Regions from separate parts of the Homo sapiens genome. Here region 1 is linked to region 2. Evidence: fine-mapped expression QTL. A gene starts in region 2. The other region holds a variant in brackets. All regions are shown on one strand. Distances are from middle to middle.

The links. PIP is the estimated chance that this variant, and not a neighbour inherited with it, causes the effect.
Region 1: its variant is fine-mapped to the expression of GNG11 in whole blood (TOPMed, PIP 0.94).

The regions. Positions count from the first base shown.
Region 1 is chr7:93,940,964-93,953,113 of GRCh38, reverse strand. No RefSeq gene overlaps it. Among named protein-coding and RNA genes, the nearest start is that of BET1-AS1, 21 kb to the left of the region's middle. The variant C/T (reference allele first, on the strand shown) is at 6,414.
Region 2 is chr7:93,915,070-93,927,219 of GRCh38, reverse strand. It overlaps GNG11 (G protein subunit gamma 11), which reads right to left and starts at 5,485. Exons shown (of 2, transcript NM_004126.4): 1 at 4,987-5,485; 2 at 1-1,129. The coding sequence starts at 5,082. The coding sequence ends at 1,004. It overlaps LOC105375402 (a long non-coding RNA gene), which reads left to right. Exons shown (of 3, transcript XR_927751.3): 2 at 10,700-10,784; 3 at 12,125-12,150. RefSeq lists enhancers at 5,248-5,883, 11,682-12,150.

The DNA.
Region 1 (12,150 bases), 26 kb before region 2:
GCACTCCAGACCTTACACTAAGCATATCTTTCTTACACAATGACAAGCTGTCAATAAAAAAAATACAAAATACATGAAAAAGTGAGAAAATATACCATTAAGAAAAAACAATCAAAAGAAAACTAGGTATGTGTATTAGTCCGTTTTCACACTGCTGATAAAGACATACCCAACCGAGACTGGGCAATTTACAGAAGAAAGAGGTTATTGGACTCACAGTTCGACGTGGCTGGGGAGGCCTCACAATCATGGCGAAAGGTGAAAAGCACTTCTTACTTGGTGGTGGCAAGAGAGGAGAGAGTTTGTGCAAGGAAACTCACCTTTTTAAAACTATCAGATCTCGCAAGACTCATTCGCTATCAAGAGAACAGCAAAGACCTGGCCCCGTGATTCAATTATCTCCCACTGGGTCCCTCCCACAACACATGGCAATTATGGGAGCTACAAGATGAGATTTGGATGGGGACACAAATCGTATCAGCATGGAACACATATTAAAATTAAAAATAATAAATATTTATTGTTATTATTTACCAAGAGCATCATCAGCTCAATGGTCCTCTATCTATGCAAGCAGTGGTTCTCAAAGCATGGTTGGAAGACCAACAGCAACAGCATCTTTTGGGAACTTATTTGAAATGCAAATTTTTTGGCCCCACTCTAGACCTACAGAAGCTTTGAGGAAGGCTCAACAATTTGTGTTTTGACAACCCTCCCAATGGTGGTGATGCATACTAAAACTTAAGAACTACTAAAACCACTATATTAAATAAATTGAATTCATCATCATAAACAAAGATAACACTAGGCCCAAACACCTCCCCTCATGAATATTATTAAGTTTGCAGAATGAAATAATAGAAATGATACAAAAACATTTTGCAAAAATTAAGGAAAAGGAAATGGTTTTGAACTAATTTCAGGAGGCCTGCATAACCCTACTACTAACCTGATGAAAATATTGTAAGGAAAGGAAGCCATAGACCAATATTCTACGTAAAATTATATATGAAAATTTTAAACAAAATACTAGATAATTTAATCTAATAACAGAGAAAAAGATAATACATCATGACTAAGTGAAGTTTATTCCAGAAACACCAAGTTAGATTGACAACACAAAATCAATCAACCCTGCAATTAGTAGTATTAATGAAATAAATAGAAATATTATATGATCCATTTAATAGGTGCAGACAAGGCATTTGACAAAATTCAATACCTGTTAATGTTGAAAATCTCCCATCAAAGTAGGACTGGAAGAGAAAATTCTAAATCTGATCAAAGAAATCTATTAAAAAACCAACAATTAACTTCCTACGTAATTGTGGAATGTTATACTTAGAACTCTTAGAACAGTTCCCGGCACAAAACAAGTACTACGAAAAAGATTGCAAAAAAAGTAATTACTCAAATTTTTCATTCATCTTGTCATAAATGCTACAAGTAACTACATGCTGTAAAACTTTATGACATGATATAAAGTAATTAAATTTTATCCTGGCAAAATTAAATATTCAATAAATATTTTTCTTAATTTAATGGCATTCTGAATATTTTAAGACAGGAAAAGAGAGATTTTGAATCATAAAAAGTTTTAAACATTTTCATTATTTTCCTTCTCTCTAAAGAATGGATAATGTTTTTCTATTTTCATAGACTGAAAATGTTTGCAGCAGCAATACACGTTCCCAACTGTGTGATCATGTGTTTGCATGTATCTGATCTGTTATTCACATCAGGATTCCTTTTTATCTTGTCCTACTTCATGTATATGTCTGAATGAAGCCTGGTCTTTCCATGCAGCATCAGAGGTCAGTAAAACACATACATTTAGGTGGTGACTCAGTGGTTCCAACTGGACCTTAGTGTCCCAGTCATGTTTCCAACACAGACCTTCAAATTCAAAAGCTTATTTAAAGAACTGCAGTTATTTTTCCACTTCTGTTCAGGTTTCTGAAGGATGAAGGTATTTTTTCCTTAAAATGCCATCTTGAGTTATGAGCTACCCCTAACTTTATTTCAAGCTTTCTGAACTTGAGTCCTCTCATCAGAAGAAAAAAGAAAACCCACCTTTATCCATAAAAGGAGGAGGAGACTGAGTCAAAATAAGATTAGGCAATTTAAACTGCTGCAGCCAGTAAGGGCCAGAGCTGAGATTTGAACCCAGGTAGATAGGGCCCAGACTTTCAGTTCTTAAACATTGTATATACTGCCACTCAAATTAAAATCATTTGCTTGATGTCTTCCATAAGTTGTAGGTTTCACAAAGTCATCAACCATTTACCTTGTTCACAGGACCTACCTAGTACCTAGATTTCCAAGAAACAGATGTTGAATAAATGAATCATGTCAGGTAGCAATTATCCCTAATCTGCAGATGAGGAAACTGATATTTACAAAGCCAAAATAATCTAGTCAGAATCAAACAACTAATACACACAAAATTTGAACCTGAACCACTCTGAATTCAAATCTTTTCCTCATTCTTTTTCATACCACACCACAATAACTATTCTCTAGAAATCTGAAAATCTTCAAAAAATGGATAAACAAGAGGAATGCAGTTGGGGAGGATTTGTCCCCTTGAAGGATGTATATTAAATCACATCTATCATGAGGCCTTTAAGAGTACTTTATAAAAAGAGATACTCATCGTCACCTCCTGGTGATGGCAAGGGCCTTGAGGTCCCAGATATGATAATGACTATTGTGATGATGATGATGATAATGACCGAAATAATAATAATAATAATTCCTAAAATAAAGAATTAGTCTTAGTACCAGAAACAAAAGAGACTGAAGTTCTACTCATGGAGCGTAATGTTGTTTACCTCAATTAGGCCATTAGGCATCATGCATGTAAACTTTGATGTATTCAGTAAAAGAGATCTACTCTTTTCACATACAGAAAATTAACTAGGCAAGTGAAAAATTCACTCAATTCAGCCATAACACAACAAATATCGATTTAGTATTGTCACTAAAATAGCACTTCACAATCTAATGGACAGTTTTTTAAAAAAATTTTAAGCTTTTTACTTTGTATGTATCTTGACGCTGCATGAAATATCCTTAAAGAGGAAAGGGATACGTTTAAGTTAAGGAAGGAAAACTGGACTGAAAGATATCAATACAATTGTAATAAAAAAATTCAAAGGAAGTAAATCAATGTGCTCATATTCTTTACAGATTCATAGCTCAAAATGGAAAAATTCACATTTTAGCAGATGGCTAATTATTAGTGTAACAGGAACAGCATTCATGTCATGAACAACAAACTCAGTAAGCCATTATCTTAATAGTGATGTTCAGTGTAGTTCTATCCTGTTACATTCAATTGTTTTCTTCTTAAAGAAGGAAATTGAAAAAGAATTGGAAAAGCAGACATTTGCTATCATTCAGGGTTAGCTGCAGGCACAGCCACAGAGCATATTGACGTAAATAATGGACACTTACTGTCCAGACAAGGGGGTGACTCACTCCCAGACTGGCTCTCTGGATTGAATTGTAATTACTAGAAACTTTCACAATTTTCTGCCTCATGTTGTGAATAAAAAGAGAGCACAAATTTATGTTTAATGGTCAAATAAAACATTTGTTGGTTTGAGTAACCTAATCTAATCTTTTGATCAATCTTTTGATCACTAAATGACTAAAATACCATATACTCATTCTTAAAAGTTGCAAGAAAAGGAAATATAATCAGTAAGATATGTGTTGACAACAATCTGTAAACAAAAGACTAAGCTAAAGTATATTGTTCTTACTTTCATCCTTTCTGTTCTTCTTCCCTTCTCTTATTCATTCATTCAACAAATATTTATTGATTACCTATCATGAGTAAGTTTAAGTGTGTAGACACTTGTACTACACATCCAGCCCACATAAGTGAGCTAGCATACCATATTGAAATAGGGCAGTATATGGTGGATAACATCTCAATAATAAGCAGTTCAAACAACCGTGATTGGGGAAGCTAGATAAAAAACAGCTTCCAGATGGGAGTAATCAGGTAAGGCATCAGAGACCCTTCTTGAATCTCATCAGGACTGCCAATCCAATTACACCCCTCCCTTTCTCCCTCTCTCCCTTTTTCCCTCCCTCCCTCCCTCCTTATCTCCCTCCCTCCGTCCCTCCCTCCCTTCCTCCCTCCCTCCCTCCCTCCCTCCCTTCCTTCCTTCCTTCCTTCCTTCCTTCCTTCCTTCTTCCTTTTTCTCTCTTTCTTTCTTTTTTTGTTAAACCTACTGGCCTTTTCTTCCTTCATTTTCCTCTTCACAATATATATTCCACCATTCCAATAACAATCTTGAGGACAGGTGTGGTGGCTCATGCTTGTAATCCCAGAACTTTGGGAGGCAAGAGGACTGCTTGAGCCCAGGAGTTCAAGATCAGCCTAGGCAACACAGTGAGACCCCTATCTTTGCAAAAACTCAAAAAAATTAGCTGGGCATGGTGGTGGACAACTGTAGTCCCAGATGTTTGAGAAGCTGAGGCAGAAGGATTGCTTGAGCTTGGTAGGTCAATGCTGCAGTGTGCCATGATCTTGTCACTGTACTCCAACCTGAGCAACAGAGTAAGACTCTATCCCTGAACAGAAACAAAAACAAAAACAAAAAATCCCCAAAAAACATTCTTGGCCACATTCTAAATGTACTTATGTCCCATATTTTGATCACACTGGTCTTAACAAACCAGTCCTTAATAAACCCACATATTGAGTCTTTCTTCATTTACATTCTTTTCTGGCATTCCAATAATTTTTTTTTCAAATTACTTTGCAATGACATTACTCTGCAATGACTGTTTCAAACCGTTTACATTCTCCTGAAACTCCCATCCCTACTACTTCCCACTTCTTCCTTGGTGTCAGAGGTTGATGTCACTTACTATCTCAAAGGGAAAATAGATGCCATCAATTGGACATTTCTTCAATCTCTAAATCACATGCTCTAAGCCACCAAACACACATGTCTTTTCTCCTCACCCATGTCTACTCTTTGTCTTTTTGCAAGACAGGAGGTGGCCTGCTCCTTGCTCACACTAAATCTCCTGACTTTTGAGCTTATCCTCTCCCCCTATCTTAGGAACTTTACTCAAATGTTTTTTCTCTTTGCATTATCTTCTAACTTTCCCATTAAACCTGAATATTTTTAATGGCTTTTAAGCTACCTCCAGCCACTCCCAAGAAAGAAGATTCGTTCCTCATTCTCTTTCAGCCACAACAAGCTCTCCAGAAATATTATACATTTTTGCTGTCTCCACTTCTTCATCTCTTGATCACTAGCCAACACTAATCTGGCTTGACCCTTTACCACTCCACCAAAAGAGCTCTCATCAATGTTCCCAGTGGCCCATGTCACTAAATTCTATTCCCCACCACCCACTTGTTTTTGTTTTTGATTTTCATCTCTTTTGATTTCTTAGGAACATTGGAAAATATCAAATACTACATTCCTCTTGAAAAACTTTCTTCTTTTGACTTGTATCATATCACATTTTCCTGGCTTTTCTCCTGTATTTGACCACAACTTGCTGGTGTCTTTTGCATGTTTCTTCTTCCTACTCCCAAGATAACTATTAGCCTGCCTTCAGGCCATGTCAAGTCTCTCTTCTGCTCACTTTTACAACTCACCTTAAGCAATCCCATGGTATTAGCTAGCATCCATGTCTTTGTTGGACATAAATCTTATGCCCCTTCAGAGATGTCCCTCGACTGCCTCCTTCTTTTTCTTTCTTGGTCAGTGCCCCACCTGGATGGACCTGGTCACACCTCTACCTCAAGGCTAATGCTGAAGTTGTTTGAGTTGGCTGTTAAAGATTGAGTAGAATTTTAAAAGATGGAATATAGAAGTAGAAGAATTAATTCCAGAAATCTAAAGTGGCAAAACAAAAGTGCACACTCATAAAAAAAAAATCAAGGCAAATTTTGGAATCAGCAAGTAGTGTGCTTGACATGAGCACAAGCTTTAAAGGTAGGTTAAGCCTGGCTTATGGAGAATTTGGCTGTCAGAATAAGGAGCCCAGTTCTCATTCAGTAGATAATAGCAATCCCATGATGGTTTTCGACAAGAGACATATGGTTTTAAAACAGTGGTTTAAGATGGCAAACCTAAAGATCTTTTGCAAGGTGGCTTTCAGAAAAAAGACTATAGAGACAGGAATATGAAGCTGCAATGTAACTATTTTAAGCTTTCTGTTTTGGGGTGATAAAAGCTTTAATCGAGAAGACAATGGAACCGGGAGGAAGAATGGGGCCCAGAAAACACACTGAAGGACAGCAACTAAATTTGGCATGCCTGATATGCAACAGATGAAAACACAGGTTAAAAAGTCTCCTTAAGGTTAAAAGTAATTGGAAAAAGAAAGTCACTGTTTATGTTCAGAAGGGGAGTTGAAAATGTGAAACTCAC[C/T]TCTAAGAGTGAAGCCTGGAGTACTCACATTAATTTGAAAGCTGTAAAGAGATGATAGCTGAAAATTTCAAAGTTGAGTTTTCCAAAGAGAAGGACGTAGAGAAGGGGAAGAGAAGAAAGTCAAGAATAAGGCCTTAGGAATTATATAAAATGTTAACAAAGGAAACACAAAAAGAACAAGCAAAGAAGAAATTCATTTTGTGCAGGGCTAGATAAGCCAGAGAAACGGAGCAGGTCAAGAATGCTACTGAGAGGCTAAAAGGAAAAGAAAGCATTTGGCAAATTCCAAGAGTTTAAAAATCCTTGCAAGGAATTAAGAAGAGATTGATGAAACAGCCTGGTGTTTTAACAGACATTGTGGTTAAAGGGGGAAAAATGTTATAATGTGCTAGTTTAAGTAGGGAGTAGAATTGGTGAAAAGTCTGTGGCTTTGCATGCTTGGTTAAAGCCAAGGAAAAACTGACAGCATATTTTTAGTGAGGAGGGGCAATTATTGGAGAGAAGAGACATAATAAGGTAAAGAAGTGACTAAGTGATGAACATTTAGGAAAACGGAAGAAACTAAAGGAATTAAAGGAACTGGGAAAGATAAGTTATTTTAAAAAGGAAGGACACCTTGTCTTGGATATAGGAAGTTATATCGTGGTTGAAAATAGATTAGCTGTGAAGACCTGAGAGCGATGTGCTCAGAAGTCTATTCAAACTGGATGAGATAAACTTTGCAGACACTACTGGAAAAGAAAGATAAGGGAGGAATCAGATCACATGCAGTTATATGTCTCCTAAAATAGCCATGTATTAGGCAGAGAGGAGGGGCTGCCAAAATAGTTTTTCAGCATTTCTTTTGGAAAGCGATTAATGATAAGTTTTGCCCAAATGATTGTATTTGCTATATTTTGGAAAGTCTAAACCTGGGAAAGCAAATAGGTTTAACATGTCATGTCAACTCCAATTGATTAGTAAACCTGCAGTGCTATTGGAAAAGATTATGAGGGCTGTTCTAGCTCGGTAAGAGAGCACTCAGTGACTGATTAGCAATATCTACTTTGAGCCAAGCATAAAGGGTTGATATATTTGCTAACTCTGGAACCATAACTGTAAGTTATTTAGTCCAATTTTCTGACATACAGATCAGAAGCAAGGCCACATTTAGGTATCCATCACAGATTTATATGAAAGTGGAAAAGTCATAAAAAGCCACCCTACTTTAAGGTTCCTTAGCTGAAAGATATAGACCTTGGAACTTGGGATTTGAAACCTACAGGGTTCAAAAAGAAAAAAATCAGACCCCACTCACTTATCCGATCTATTCTTATTCCTTCCAAGTTCATTTGGGACTGGCTTTAGAGTCAAGGTATTGCTCTGTTGCCCAGGCTGGAGTGCAGTGTGTAATCATAGCTCACAACAGCTTCGAACTCCTGGGCTCAAAGTGATCCACCTCCTTCAGCCTCCCAAGTAGCTGGGACTGCAAGCACACATGCCACTATGCCAGGCTAGGTAAATATATTTGAACATTACAGTCAAAGAATTATAAATCAAAGTTCGCTCTACTATCTCAGATCAATTTTCTGATATTCTTTTCAGCAAGAACAAACACTCTGTTCTGGATTTATAATATAAACATTGATATATTTCTAGAGTATAACTTTATAATCAAAAAGAGTTAACTTTTTGATTAACATTATAAAATTAATGTCTATATTTAATAGTCACATTCTTGTTTTTATACTTGTTGTTATAAAATTCCTCTGCTATTATGTAGTGCATTGTTCATGTGAAACTGTTTTTAAAGGAAGCACAGTTCTGTCTTGATAAATATCAGGAAACTGCCAGATGTTTCCTACTGTCTAAGCCAAACCAGTCAACAGTATGATCATGCTTTAACTAACACGGTCACAAAATGCATACCACCCACAGTCTCTCTATAATACAGAGTCCAGTGCTTTAGCACACAGCAAAATGTACAATTTAAATAGAAAACAAAAGAAAGAAGTGAGGAATGTCATTCTAGTGCAGTTTTAACTTTCTCACTGAAAAATAAAATATACATTAACCATTTTAAATTTCTTAATCCAAAAAGGAATAAACTTGCTTTCTAATATCATGGGACATTTCCTTAAATGGAATAGAATTTACAGTTTTTCCCTTAAAAATGGAGACTTCTTTGAAAGATGAGAAAAAACAAAATGAACTTGTTCAAGAATAATATATCAAGAAAGGCTAGTTACTAAGCAAGTTTCTATTTAACCCACAAGTCGTTGTCATGCCCTTGAACAGTCTGCGTTCTAGCCTCAGTCACCTTGACAGGTGGCGAGAAGGGGAGAGACAAGTAGACTTTCAGACAGAATAAATAGTATCACAGTGACTGGGAGACAGAGAAGCTTAAGATTTACTTAGCTATCAACCAGCTGTTTCTGGATAGGTATATACAGATGAACAAAAGTAGAAAATACTGGCATAGGAGATCCAAAATGTGTGTTGTGGAACCATGAAGCCAAATAGTTTGTACTTAAATTAGAAGGCAAAATAAGGCAATTGAGGGTTTCTGTAAGGGGAAATGTATTTTGGATTGGTGGTGAGTTTCTGCATGCAGAAGGATAAAGAAAGAAGTGTGTAAGACAGGGATCATGGTATGTCTGTGTATAAGAGCCTGAAAAGTGTTGCTATCAAATAAGTTGGAAAAGCTCCAAATGGCAGAGGCAAGCAGAGGAGCATGGTAGGCGAGGTTTTGATGTCAAAGGAGGAAAAGGCTTTGAGTAGAAACCAGATTCCAGTTATATAGAAGGTCACAAGTGAATGAGACTTTCAATACACTGGACTTGGCAGTTGGAAAGTCATAGAGAGAAAGTTGGTAGTGAGAATAAGATTGTAATATTTCAAAAGAAATAGAATTTAATTTTTCTCTTCTGAAAAAATGGAGACTCGTTTAAAAGATGAGAAAGAAATGCATGTATTTAAGAATAATATTATTGTTAAGTATGATTAATTAGTAAGGAATGGAGGCAGGCAAATTATATAATCAATGAAATACCTGATGATAAAAAGATCTGAAATTGAATAAAACCATAGAGAGTATTGCTCTCACAGGAAGCAGGAACAAAGAAAAATTTCTTCTTTTGCTTTGTTGTTACAATTGTTGTTATTATTGATTTAGGTAGATTGTACAAATCATGTTTTTAGGCAGAAAAAAGAAACATAACCAATTGAGGGCAAGAGGTAGAAAATCTAAGACAAGAAGGTATAACTTAGGTCCCAGGAGATCCACAGACACCGGAGTTCAAAAACACAGGCTTAGTAAAAGAAACAAAACCAAAAACAAGAACAGAAAACAACGAGACACTTGTTTCTCCATCGAAAAAGAGAAGGACCAGGAAAGAAAGATGAACAATTAACACATTCTCATGTAGGTAGGAGAAAAATTAGGGGAATGTACATCTGATATTTTCAAACTTTTCCACTGAGTAGACGTGTAGGACATTTGCCAGCAAGATGGCAGGCTGAAATAGTGCTGGACTCTTGAAGAAAAGAGAGAAGGTTTGTAAATGATACAGTAAAGAATTCAAGTGAGAAATAAAAGAACCCCAGTGTGCAGCAAAGGTTAGTCAGGTTTTCTTCTCATCTAACCAACACCTCAAGTGCAGATGAAACTCAACGCCATGATAAGACAAGGATGGTCACCTTCTTGGCAAGAGGCTATGGAATTTTATGTCAATCGTTATAACTTTCTTACCACACTATCTTATATGTAACTGAGTGACTTGTACTCGAAGTGGCCACCTCTTTTCTTCCTGAGGAAACAAAAGTAAATTACCTATAGGCCTACTTTAGTCCGGAAAGGCTCACTCCTGCACTCTCTTTCAGAGTGCCTGCCAGTAGGATCCACTGATATGACCTAAGGAAGCCTGCTCACATCACATGTTGCTGCCCAAAGCTGATCATAGAGGAGGAAGTAAACCAATTTTCATAAGAAGTTCAGAGCCTTATGGGAGGGAATGAACTCCTGCTCCCTAATATTTGATGCTAAAATATCTGTTGGATTGGACCAATGTAACACAAAGTTGGCAGGCAAGAAAAGATGCCAAAGGTCTCAAAGAGAAATGCACTCATAGGGCAGAATCGATTATGTGCTGGAGAACCCATTATGTGCTGGCAACTTGTGATCCATTGTTGGGTGGCTGGCACAGCAGTTATCTCAGGCTTGTGCTTTGGTGCATAGTTAGTGAACATATGTGTGACTCAAACAAGGGAGCCATCAAATTTGGGCCTAAGCTTGAAATAAATGGGATTCAGTTCAACAAGCACATTACTGAAAAATGAAGAAACTTTGACTGGACTGTTCAGAAGCAACAGAAAATGTAAACTGATCAGGTGTTCCATTTCTCTACCCTCCTGGTATTTGATAGCTCAACCGGTCCCATTTTCAACTTGTAAATATTTGGAGTGACCATTAAAACGTAAGCAAAAGACACAAACAGTCACTTCTCAAAAGAAGACATACTAGTGGTCAAAAAACATACAAAAATATGTTCAACATTACTAATCACCAGAGAAATGCAAGTTAAAACCACAATGAGATATTAACACCATCTCACACCAGTCATAATGGCTGCTGCTAAAAAGTCAAAAAACAACAGATGCTGAGCAGGCTGTGGAGAAAAAGGAAAGCTTATACACTGTTGGAGGGAATGTAAATTAGCTCAGCCACTGTGGAAAATAGCTTGGAAATTGCTCAAAGAACTTAAAACAGAACTACCATTTCACCCAGTCTTATTACTGGGTATATATATATTTTAAAAATTGTCCTACCAAAAATACACATACACTCACATGTTCATCATAGTACTATTTACAATAGCAAATATATGGAATCAACCGAGGTGCCCATCAACAGTGGACTGGATAAAGAAATTGTGGTACCTGTACAGCATGGAATACTATGCAGCCATAAAAAAGAACAAATTCATGTCGTTTGCAGCAACATGAATGCAGCTGGAGGCCAGTATCCTAAGCTAATCAATGTAAGAACAGAAAACCAAACCTTATAAGTGGGATCTAAACAATGGGTACTCATGGACATAAAGATAGTAATAATAATAGATGTTGGTGACTATTGGAGGGGAGAGGGAGGGAGGGAGAGGGCAAGGGCTGAAAAACTACTATTGGGTACCATGCTCAGTACCTGGATGATGGGATCATTCATTCCCCAAACCTCAGCATCATGTGATATACTCAGATAACAGACCTGCAACTGTACCCCCGAACCTAAAATAAAAGCTGAAATTGTTTTGAAAAATGGGGTGATAAGGTTCAAGTGGGAAATATATACTTGCTACTAATAATACAGAAAACAATAATTTAATAAGAAAATAAGAAAATATCATCATACTGTTACTGGGAACCACTAAAGACTCCTGTGCGATTACCTAGTCAATTTTCTTTCCCATTAGACTATGAGCACCAAGATAGCAGACATGGACTTATTCATCCTGGTCTCTTTAGTACTGAAAGGCAGCTGGTCTACATTCAATATGTTTTGACCAACAGAGTGAAGAAGGGAAAGAAGGTGGAGGAGGCATGGAGAGAAGAGGAGGGAGGACACAGCAGCCTCCATGGAGGAGCTGGTTCAAATGGAACCCTAATCTCTTAGCTGTGAGCTGATTAGGAGGAAGGGAAGCTGAAGATGATAGATTTAGCAAAGGCTGCTGGGCCAGCAAGAGCATGCAGCAAGAGCATGCCA
Region 2 (12,150 bases):
AACACGAATAAATGGCCAGAATATATGAAGAATTCCTACAAATCAGTAAGAAAAAGACCAACTAATCTTTAAAGTGGGCAAAGATTCACTGGTTCCTTTGGAGGAGAAGAAAAAAAGGCATGTTTGGCCCAGGCCTGCTGGAAAATGCTGGCAAGCATGAGTGCAGAGGTCCAAGTGTCTGCACCAATGCCACAGAACTGGAGTAGTGCCATGCCCAAGACCTGGAGAGCACATGGGAGATGTAGCTCTGTGCAGGAATAAGTACTGGCTCTCAAAGCCAGGGCTGGCCTGGCCACTACACGGCAGAGAGGCAGGGCACTCTTCCTGAACCCCAACTCAGTATTTTCTTCAAGGCTACTACTACAGGAACACTATTAAGAAGATCTAAATGATGATAAACTAGGGAAGTACTAACATAGATGTGGCTTGGCCTTGTTCCTGACTCAGATAATCTGACTTCTGTCAATGTTATAGGAATTCTACCTGCTCAGTTTCTTAATAGTTAAGGTTAGATCAAACACGTTCCAGAGGTCAGAACTCAGCACTCTAAACCATTGACGCAGGGTTTGGAGATGTGATCTGTCGAACCACCTAACCTTCTGAATCATATTCCAAACCCAATCATACTCCACACCCAAAAGATTACGGGGAGAAATATAAAAGTTAATGCATGAAAAGTGTCTTCTTAAATCACCAACACTCATCTTCCCAAGACAAAACTTTATTTGAAGCATCAAGCAATATACTGAAAGAAGTGTCATGCTCAAGTAATGTTCTTATTTCCATAATTGTACATCTGATACTCTCTGCTCTCTTAAAAAAGACTGCATAGTGAGCAAAGATGAGTAGCACATATGCTTTTATACATAACCCTATCTATATGGTGCTTAAGAAAGTCTCCTTTTAATTTCATTCTTCCTTCCTTAAAAAGCATGTTGGTTTTATCTGGGAAAACTAAAACAAACTAGTTCTTCCACTTAGGATGCAGTTTCTCCCAAGTTATTTATGAAATAACACAGCTGCCTTTTTCTTTAAAGGGGTTCTTGTCTTCTGGAATTCCCTTTACTAGAGGATCCTCTCCAGAACGTTCTTCAATATAGTTCTTTATTTCTTCAGAACATTTAGACACCTTAAGTATAGAAAAAAAAGAGAATACATTAGGTTAGGGTTGTTTAAACTTTGTCCCTACGCCTTAATGAAATAAGTATAATTGAATACAATAAGTTTTTAAACATTTTTTTACATTTACATATATATGTGCATGTGTGTGTGTATATATTATATATATAATACATATATAAAATCTGGGCTCTGCACTCTAATATTTTTATTCTATTACTATACCTATGATGCAACCTATGTAAAATATATTTCTTACTGTTGGTCGTTGGTCAAATTAAAAAATGTTTGAAAGTCACTGCATTAAATAAATCATCTCCAGCAGTTTTTTTCCATTGTGTCTCATATGATTTCCTTCCTCTGCTAAAATACAATTATGCCATGTCTACAATATTTTAGGAACTGAAATATACTCTTATTTTAATTTTCCATGCTAGTGAGCAGGTGCAGTAGTAGATAATCCCCAAATGTTTTGGGGTGTGTAATGCCACGATTCTCACTTATGGGTGTGTGCCATGTTCTGAAATTTCACGAAATGATAGAAGCTTTGGAAAAAGCCTGATTCTGGAAAGATTGGAATTGTCCAAATATCGCACTCTGTGTTGCTCCTCAGAATTTCTTCCTGCTGCATGAGGGCAATGATCATAATAAAAGACTTATCTGAGACTTATTAGGCTTATCTGAGAATAAATTTTTTTCTGAGATGGAGAAAAAATTGAATAGTGTCTTCAAAAAGTCTATTCTTAAAAGAAGAGTTTCTTCAAAAAGTCTATCTATCCTTAAAAGACAGGTTGCAAGAATGAATTAAAAAAAGAATAAAAACAAAAGAAAAGAAATTAGGGTTTTAATGAAGGCCTGTATTGCTAGTAAGAAATTTAAAGTAAAAATTACAGAAGTACCAGCAAATTTAATTTAATTTAATTATTTATTTCTTTTTGAGATGGAGTCTTGCTCTATTGCCCAGGCTGGAGTGCAGTGGCAGGATCTCGGCTCACTGCAAGCTCCGCCTCCCGGATTCTAGCCATTCTCCTGCCTCAGCCTCCCAAGTAGCTGGGACTACAGGCGCCCACCACCACGCCTGGCTAATTTTTTGTATTTTTAGTAGAGACGGGGTTTCACCACGTTAGCCAGCATGGTCTTGATCTCCTGACCTCGTGATCCGCCCGCCTTGGCCTCCCAAAGTGCTGGGATTACAGGCGTGGGACACCGCGCCAGGCCGCACCAGCAAATTTAAATGGAGACCTATGAAAACTGGGCAAATGTTCCCATTGAATTAGTAATCTAAATTAGTAACCTCAAACTGTTTTAACGGTTACTACTAAAACATGTTTGCATGTGTATCCCAAAATGAATATAATTTTTAACTACAAATAAGTACAGACACTGCTTTGTTAATACATCATGCAAAATTATAAAACATAAACTGGAAATTATAAATGGGTGAGGTTTAAAACTAAACAGAAATAGCAATGTTAACATTTTACTTCCACACCCCAAATGATTATCCTCTGCAAATCAGTGTGGAAGCCTCTGACCTCAAATTGAAAACTAGGTGATGTAGTTGTGTGACTTAAAATCTGGCAAAATAAAATCTTTCAAATACAATTCTTTCAGGTAACATTTGCTCTCGTTTGTTGACATTCAGAGTGCATGCATTTTAAGTGAATTTTTAGAGTTGATAATGCACGTGTCATAATTTAGGGTCTGTCGTCCCAGGTTAATTTCTCAGCAAGATACATGCTCCCTACATTGAATCTTTTCTTACAAGGTTTTTTCATTAGGTTTCAGAAGAGGTCTGTAACCTCCAAATGTGAGTAATTGCTCCTCTGATACATTTCCTTCCATAATCAAGAGGACATGTTTGATAAACATTTAACTACAGCCAGAATGCAACTTGCAAGTTTTGTCTGGGCCTAAGTTAAGGACTGAACACGTAGCCCAGATGTTAACTATTTATTGACTGAATAATGGACTGGGAATGAGAAGAAGAATGTTTTAGTACCTGCCCTATCACTATCTATCTCTGTGGTCTTAAATGTGGAGCTAGTTAGCCTTTGTGGGACTCAAGTTTTTTTTAATCCTTAAAGTGAGGGAGATGAATGATCTCTAAACATTCCAATGCTTGCCTAGCAATAATAATGTATAATTCCAAGTGTATAATCAAATGTCTTAATATTATTGTTGAGATTTAGATGCCTCTTTCTGTATTTCCTAAGGTTACATATATCCAAAGTTTTTTCTCCCTCTGGCATACACTTGAGGTTTCTGGAGGTGGGAAGTTGATGCCACAGGCCGTGTCCTAAAGGGTCAGGCTGGCTAGCAGGGAGAAACTGCTAATGAATGATACAGTCAATTTTTACATAGTCGGTTGCATCCACATCACTTAACTTAAAACTCTGAGTAAGTAGAAGACGCTTGTCTTTTTTCCTAAGTTCTACACAGTGATACCAAATATTAAGATATTAGAACCTTGCATAGACAATGCTGTACTTCAGCATATGAAACTCTGTTTAATATGTAACTCCTAAGGTTTATTGTGTGAACATATCTAAGTGGCCAGCACTTGCTGTACTGGGAACTTCGCCATCCATAAAATGGGTCCCTTAAGGTTTCAAGAAGCGTGCTTATTGATTGGGTAGTGTAACTTCCTTTTTTTCCCCTTTAAACGCGTTGGTGTTTTTAAAGCTACAAACCCTTAACATGATAGAAGGGACAGCTCATTATAAAAGCTAGGAAGAGCCGGGATTTGGATGTGAAAGGTTAAATTTGAGAAAAGAAATATGTAAAAAGTAAAACACAAAAATGCCTGCATCTTCTAATCATCACTCAACAGTGAAGACTCTTGCCCTTAACAGATTTATTATAACTAGAACAGGAAGGCAAGTGAGCATATTATAACGCTTCATTTCCATTGTTTTTCTTAATTTTTTCTAGTGCTAAACCATAATAAATAAGATCAGTTCAAAATTTTCTTGCTGAAGAGGAAAGGTTAATTATCTTTAAACAATATCTATTCAAAGACCTTTCCTAGTCTACAGGATGCCTGATTGAGTTAAAACAGGAAGAGGGATTAGTGTCTGAAGGAAGGTCTTGATGACCAGTAAGAAATTGAAGTAAAACTTATAAAACTCCCGAGACGTTTCAGTGGAGAATATTGAATACTGGGTCATATGTTCTCAATGAAATGGTAATCTCTATCAATAGTCTCTAAAACTTTAAAATTGTGATCACTAAAAAAATTTTTCATATGCACCACAGTGTATGTATAATTATTTATAAATAAGTACAGATACTACTGTATTAATCGCATACTAATAAAACATAAAGTGAAAATTATAAAGGGATGAGATTTACAAATAAATATAGAAATTCTAATATTTTGTTCCCAAATTTCGGTGGACTGTTCTTTGCATATCACTGAAGGCCACTGGTGAAATTCAAAATTAAATAATGTACTTGTAAGACTTTAAAATACGGTTTTAGAAAATTTCTTTCAAATATCATCCTTTCTAGTAGTGTAAAAGATCAAAGAACCAAGTAGCTATCCGCTTTTTTCCTACAAGTGAGTTTTGAAAAACAGCTGTCTAATGGAAAGCAAGATTTCTTGTCTATTTTCCCCTTCCTAGGCATCTTAAAAGTTAGGACATTTGGCCTTAAATTACTTATCAGATCCTTGCTCCCTCCTCTACCTCCTAGGATTTCCCCACATCAGCTGGCAGTCCCCAGGCACTGCCAAAGGGTGGTGAGAAGAGAAGCTACAAAAAGGGGGAAAAATAAGCTAAACTATTTGCTTTACTGTTACTAAGCAGGAAAAATCGGACCCTGCTTCATTTCAGAGAAGGAAATATTCCGGAACAGCCAACTTACTTGTTGTCTCTGCAACTTCACTTCTTTGCGAAGCTGCTCAACTTCCATTTTCAGTTTTTCCTTCTCTGGCAAATCTTCGATGTGAAGGGCAGGCATTTTCGCCCCAGAACCGGGCTCGGGCTAGCTCTGGCAGCGGAGCCGCTGGAAGAGCGGCGAAGCTCGGCGCGTCCCGAAACAACTGAAGGCCTGGCCCGCCGCCCACCCGCGCAGGATGTGACTGCAGCCCTGCTGCGGTCCCCAGCTCCCCGAGGGCTTGGCTTTCTCCGGGACGCTTGTCACGCCAGCGTGCCCCAGCTTCCTAGGACCTGAGAACTCTGCCTTTTCTCAAGTCCCTGCAACCCAGGAGGCCTGCCCGGGTGCTAGATGAGGGTTAAGTTTGAGACTGGGTCCAAGCAGCTTCCCGCTGCTCAATCGCCCAGCAGGGATGCTGGCCACGGACAGGCCCTGACTCAGGACCTGCCACGCCCGCGGGGGACGGCTGGGCTGGGGCTGCAGGACTGGGAACAGCAGAAGTTTTACTTTGTGTTCTCCGCGCACCCCCGCTCCTTTTTTTTTTTCCGTTTCCAAGTCACATCCGGGTTTTGTTTGTGAAGCTAGGAAAAGGAGTACACTACCCAGCAGGAAATAACTACCCTTCACCTCTCAAAGAGTTTTAAAAATATGCTAGATATAGCTTTTCCCTAATTACATACATAGGTTGTTGCAAAAGTAATTACTTTTCTCTAATTACATATATAGGTTGGTGCAATTAGTTTTGCACCAACGTAATAAATGCATAGTGGAGAATGCGGACGCTTAAGAAAAGGCTGAAAAGAAAATGAAGCTTAGCCCTAATCCCAGAAATACCCACCAGTGTTCTGCTCATTTGTGTCCATCCGGCTTGTTCGAGGCCTAATATGGGTTTATACATTTTGGGCGAGGAGGGGGCAACAGGGTGTGAATATCGTTTACAAGTTGCAAGAACATTTTCTATTATTAAATAATCATCTGCATCCTCAACAGCAGCAGAGTTTGTATTTTTTTTATTTTTCCGGGGGAATGTTATGTAGAGGGGTGCATCAAAGGATGATATAAGAGAAGACAGAAGCAGGAATCTTAGAGTTCTTAACCGAAAGCCTTTCTCCACTCCCCAACCCTAAGTTTTGGGTGACACTTGACACCAAGGATTTTGAATTCCTGGCTCCTGAACCTTCCTGGATGTAGGCAGTGGATTCATTTAGTATTAGTTTCTCCACTTTCTGGCAAGCACTATTTATCTAGCTGTTGCTCTGGAAAGCCAGGAAAAGTGTCCGATGTGAAAAAAGTTTACATGCAATAAAACTTTCCCTTTAACTGTAACTAAAGTCTTGTTGATGGTGGTCAAAAGAGTAGAAGAAAAATCAAACATGAATGTAAGAAACCTTCCCTAGCAGTTGGATATTTCTCTTTCTTTCCAGAGATAACCTCCTGCCTCACAGAGTCAAAGGCAAGTGAAATATTAACTTAATATTTCAGAGTAGCTGACCCAAGACACCCATGACCATTCCCTGTTTAGGAAGCAGGAGTTTTTGTTCGTTCCTAGTTTCTTACCACGCTCCGCTCAACCTCAATGAATAAATTAGAATGAAAAAAACAATGAACCACTTAATGAATACTCCTGGCGTGTAGTTGCAGCTCTGCCACAGGCCATCACTGAAGAAGTCATTTAATTTTTCTTAGTTTTGGTTTTCTAATTTGTAAAATGTATAGTAAGGCAGGGAAGTAGTGAATCAGCTAAGCTATGTTGTGTCTCTAATTGTGTTGGTATGTCTATATATGATAAATCATTTTCACAAAGAAAATGTTTAAGAGCTTCACTTTCAATATTTGAAATACCAGGGTTTTCCAAGCTCAGAGTAGTTAGAGCATCTACTGAAGTTTACTTGTAAATAAGCAGGGAGACTAGACAAATGTCCATATCTGTCTTGTGCACTAATTCATTTTTAAAATTTTCTATTACTTAAATTTAAAAGGTTGGTCAAAAATACCTTAAATTAGTGAAAGTAATCAACGTGAATGTGGCCTAAATTAAATAGGTTCAGCACCTAAGTTAAATAAATTGGTTAAATAAATTATTGTGTTTTTGTTCTTTTTTTTGTTTTTTTGTTTTTTTGTTTTTTTTTTTTTGAGACGGAGTCTCGCTCTGTCGCCCAGGCTGGAGTGACTGGCACGATCTCCGCTCACTGCAAGCTCCGCCTCCCGGGTTCACGCCATTCTCCCGCCTGAGCCTCCGGAGGAGCTGGGACTACAGGCGCCCGCTACCACGCCTGACTAATTTTTTGTTAATGTGTGTTTGTTCTAAGTCATAAAAATATAATTATTTTGGCTTTGAAGTTTCTTTCCCATGAAATCATCTAGTTGCTTAGAGGGATAAATACTTATAAGCCCATATTGGTTCTTTAACTTTTCCCATCGTATTATGAGACGTATTAGAAACAAAATACTTGTTAGTCTTTTTTATTGTTATTAAATAATTCATATTCTAATATCTTAAGTAAATTGATTAAACTGAAGTGAATTGCAAAATGTTGAAATTGCATGATCACACAGGATTCTGAAAAAGGTTTTATTGTTGCTGGTTTCCTGTTTGTTTGTTTGTTTGTTTGAGACGGGGTCTTGCTCTGTCACCCAGGCTGGAGTGCAGTGGCGCGATCTCGGCTCTCTGCAAGCTACGCCTCCTGGGTTCACGTTATTCTCCTGCCTCAGCCTCCCAAGTAGCTGGGACTACAGGCGCCCACCACCACGCCCAGCTAATTTTTTTGTATTTTTAGTAGGGACGGGGTTTCGCTGTGTTAGCCAGGATGGTCTCGATCTGCTGACCTCGTGATCCGCCCGCCTCGGCCTCCCAAAGTGCTGGGATTACAGGCGTGAGCCACCGCGCCTGGCCCTGTTTGGTTTTAAATAGTAAAATGATGAGAATATTTTTTTTTAAACAAAAGGATGTGTAGTCTTCTATGCCTAGACACCGAATTTACCTCCCAGAGAAGAACCATGTTAAGCAATTTCTCATGTATACTTGCAGAAATAGTTTATCAGCAATATTCAAAAATTTTGAATAAATAAATTTTAAAATTTGTTTAGCTGTGTCCAAATGTTTTGTTAGGTTTTTACTTATATTTTACATAGTACCCCGGTAAAATTTATTTTACAAGTAGTATGAGTAGAAACCATTCTTTAGTAAAAATGACAGGTGCAACCAGCAATGAACTTTGATTAATTAGCCCACTGTCGTTTCACAAATGTTTTATAGAAATTAGTTAATAAAAATAAAAGTAACCATTTTCACTTTTAAATTATAAAAGAGTAACAACCATGAAATTTTTACTTTGGTATGCAAAAATAGGAAAAACAAGGTTTTGACAATTTTTGTGATTTGTTATGTTGTTAAAAATCTATATAAAGAAAAATAAAACATTGAAGGCAGTTAAACTGGAATTGAGCTAATACTAACTTGAACTCAAAAAAGATCAGGATTCTGGTCTTATTTTATCTTGTGATTTTTGCAAGAAACACATTATTTCTGCTTTTTTATTTCGTGTAAGTAAACTAGGTTACCTTTCAAAGTCTGCTCTTCTAAAATTTATAGAGTGACTTTGAGAGGCCGATACAGGAGGATCACTTGAGACCAAAGGTTCAGGAGTTTGAGACCAGCCTAGGCAACATACCGAGACCCCGGTCTCTACAAAAAAATAAATAAATATAAATAAATAAATAAATAAATTTAAAAAGTGCATAGTAACTGTTTTGACCATTGAAATTATGGTTTCTTTAAAGAAAGTACACTTCAGACGCTCTTGGTTCATTTGATATTTGTTTTAATCTGTTAAAACAATCATGAGGCAATTTTCAGGAGCTCATTTGTTTCCTGTAACTACCTACCTAAGATTCCTTTTCTTTTTTTTTTTTTTTTCTTGGGCAGGGGAAGGAGTTTAACTCTTGTTGCCCAGGCTGGAGTGCAATGGCGCGATCTCTGCTCACTGCAACCTCCGCCTTCCGGGTTCAAGTGATTCTGCTGCCTCAGCCTCCCGAGTAGCTGGGATTACAGGCGTGTGTCACCACAGCCAGCTAATTTTGTTTTTCTTTTTTTCTTTTCTTTTTTAGTAGAGACGGGGTTTCACCATGTTGGCCAGGCTGGTCTCAAACTCCTGATCTCAGGTAATCCTCCCACCTAGGACTCCCAAAGTGCTGGGATTACAGGCGTGAGCCACTGCACCCAGCCCTAAGATTCCTTTTCTAGATGAAGAGAATGCCAAGTCAAAGGATGATCTGTGTCTGATGCTCTGAGTATCTTAGCAACTACTTATAATTCAGGATATCAAAATGATTTCTCTGGCTGGGAGTGGTGGCTCTCACCTGTAATCCCAGCACTTTGGGAGGCTGAGGCAGGAGGCTCACATGAGGTCAAGAGTTCGAGACCAGCCTGGCCAGAATGATGAAATCCCTTCTCTACTGAAAAAAAAAAAAAAAAAAATAGCCAGGTGTGGTGGCATGAAATTGCTTGAACCCAGGAGGCAGAGATTGCAGTGAGCCAAGATCGTACCACTGCACTCCAGCCTGGGCGAGAGAGTAAGACTCCATCTCAAAAAAATAAAATAAAATAAAATACAAATAAAAATAAATGATTTCTCTTACCAATTTTGTTTCTATATTACTTTAACTCCCATCATATATAACTGATCATTCTCATTACTTAGTTTACTATTTTCCTCATGTAAACACATTATTGAGGCATTTAGGAAGTTTGATCCAATATAAACTTTTATAAGCACCACTCTTGCCTGCTTTTAAAGTCAATTACATTGTCCAGACAATTTGTTAGTTGATATGACACTTTTCAAAGATGAACAGTGCTTCTGACTTGGGAAATCTCCAATGTAGTACTGAAATTAAAACAACCGTAGAAATTATAATGAGAAAAAGTAAAGTAACGTTAAATGACTTAAGAGACACACAAAATACTCTTGAGGTAGAATGGGAGAGATAGTCTCATAAGAAGAGTAGGATTTCAAAAGGCTGAAATGGGGTGGAGTGGAGGGAGATCTCAGGTGGAGGGATCAGTATGACCAAATTCCAGGTGGTGGGAAAATGTCCACGGGAAGTATAATAATAGAGGACATTTGTTAGGCTTCTTTCTATGTACCCGTTTCTGATCTAAGAGATTATAAGTATTCAGATAATCTAGCCTAATCACTAATTTTATATATAAAAAAAAACAGATTCAAAAAGTTCACGTCATTTGTCCAAGTTCTCAATGACAAGGTGGAAGAGTCAGGGTTTTAATTTTGAATTGTTGGGCTGCAAACTTTGTCTCCAATGGTAAACTGAAAGTTAGAGATGTTGGTTAGGACCATCTTCTACAGGTTACTGAATGCCATAGCATGTACTTACTTTGTATTTATTTTAATCAGAGAAAGGGAGATATACTGAACACTTCACTAAATAAATACTAACTTGCAGGTGGAAAACTTCTAGAGACAAACCACAATTAAATAAACAAATAAATTGTAGTATGCCAGGTGGTGATGGTGCTACGGGGGAAAATAGACTGAGAGAGAGAGACAGGAAGCGCTTGGTGGAGGTTGGGAGGACTGTATGGAGAGGGTTTTGTAAATTTAAATAGGAGGATAAAAAGCTTTTCTTGAGGAAAAATAGATAAGACATTCAGTAACTAATCCCAGAATCCCTTAATACTCAGAGCACATTTGATGAAGACACGTGGTGGGGTGTGTTGCTGACTGTTCAGCCAGAAGCCCAGAGTCTTGACCGAAGAAATTTGTCAGGTGACTTCTCTGAAACTTTATTTTCTCCATTTCAAAATGAAGAGTTTAGACAAGAGTCAACAGATATTTGTTGAGCATTTATGATGATCAGAGTGGGAGGGCATTGTGCTAGAAGCCAAACTTTGGTACAACTTTCAGACTCCCTTCCAGACCAAATAATAGATAATTTTAATGTTTTTTTTTAAAGTGTGACAATCAATTAGTATTTCTGAGTATTCTGATCACTGAAGTATACAAAATAGCACTGTAAATGTGAGACAGCAACAAGAAAACACTGACCACAAAAGTGGTTACTGATTTAGGTAATTACAACTTGTCATTTGTTACAGAAGCAGAGGCAAGTTTTCTCTTAGTCATTAACACAATGGTAGTGAAATGTGACTCATGTAAACTCAACAGGATGCCAGAAGGACCTGATGTAGGTGATGGAGATTTCTCTCTCATGTGTGCTCACCTTGTTAAAGAAAAGACTGTGGTGTTGAGTCTTCATGATGATAGGGTAAAATAGCATGTTTCTTAAAGCACTTTAGAAATTTTGTCTAGATCCTTTCTCAGTAATAATACTAGTTAACACTTATTGTATCTTACCATGGACCAGGTAATATGCTGAGTGTTATAGTTGCATTAGTGTATTACTTAACCCCTACACAAAACAGAAGATATAACCATTATTGTCTTCATCCTATGCTAGGAGAAACAAATTTAGAAAGAATTAAGTAGCTTATCCAAAGTGAGTTGGGCAGTAAAGTGGCAGAGCCAGAACTGTCTGGCTCCTAAGTGCATGCTTATAACCGTGATTCTGCTGCTGGTTAAATTCACCGTGCTCCGTGACCACAGACTGAACCCTCAACCCAGTTGGCATTCTGGGGAAAAGTCACAAGATAGGTGAACTGCATATCAGAAAAATAAGCTTCCTAATTCCATAAGCAAGAGAAAGTTTGGGAAAGAAAACAGAAATTTAACCACAAAATTTCTGGGTAGAAAGTTATAAGTATTGAAAGGGAAGTGAAAAAACATAAAACAGTAAATATATGCTGACAACTCAGAATAATATAGAATCATTTATAAAACATAGTTCTTTTTAAAGAACTTTAAGCAATATTTTTTTGGCAATTATGTGTTAAACCCTGTGCCAGCTATGTTAAGAAAAACATAGAATGATGGGTTACCACACCCCAATTTTTATTAAAAGTTTACATCTATAAATTTAAAAATTCATGTACATGCATAGTAGTAGCATTATGTGTGAAAAAAATCCATATTGTTGTTAACGTTTGAGATATTTCCAAGAATTTGTTTAATTTTTTTTCTTTTTTTTTTGGTATTTTGAAATCACACAGCCTCCTTTGAGCTCTTTGAAGGGATT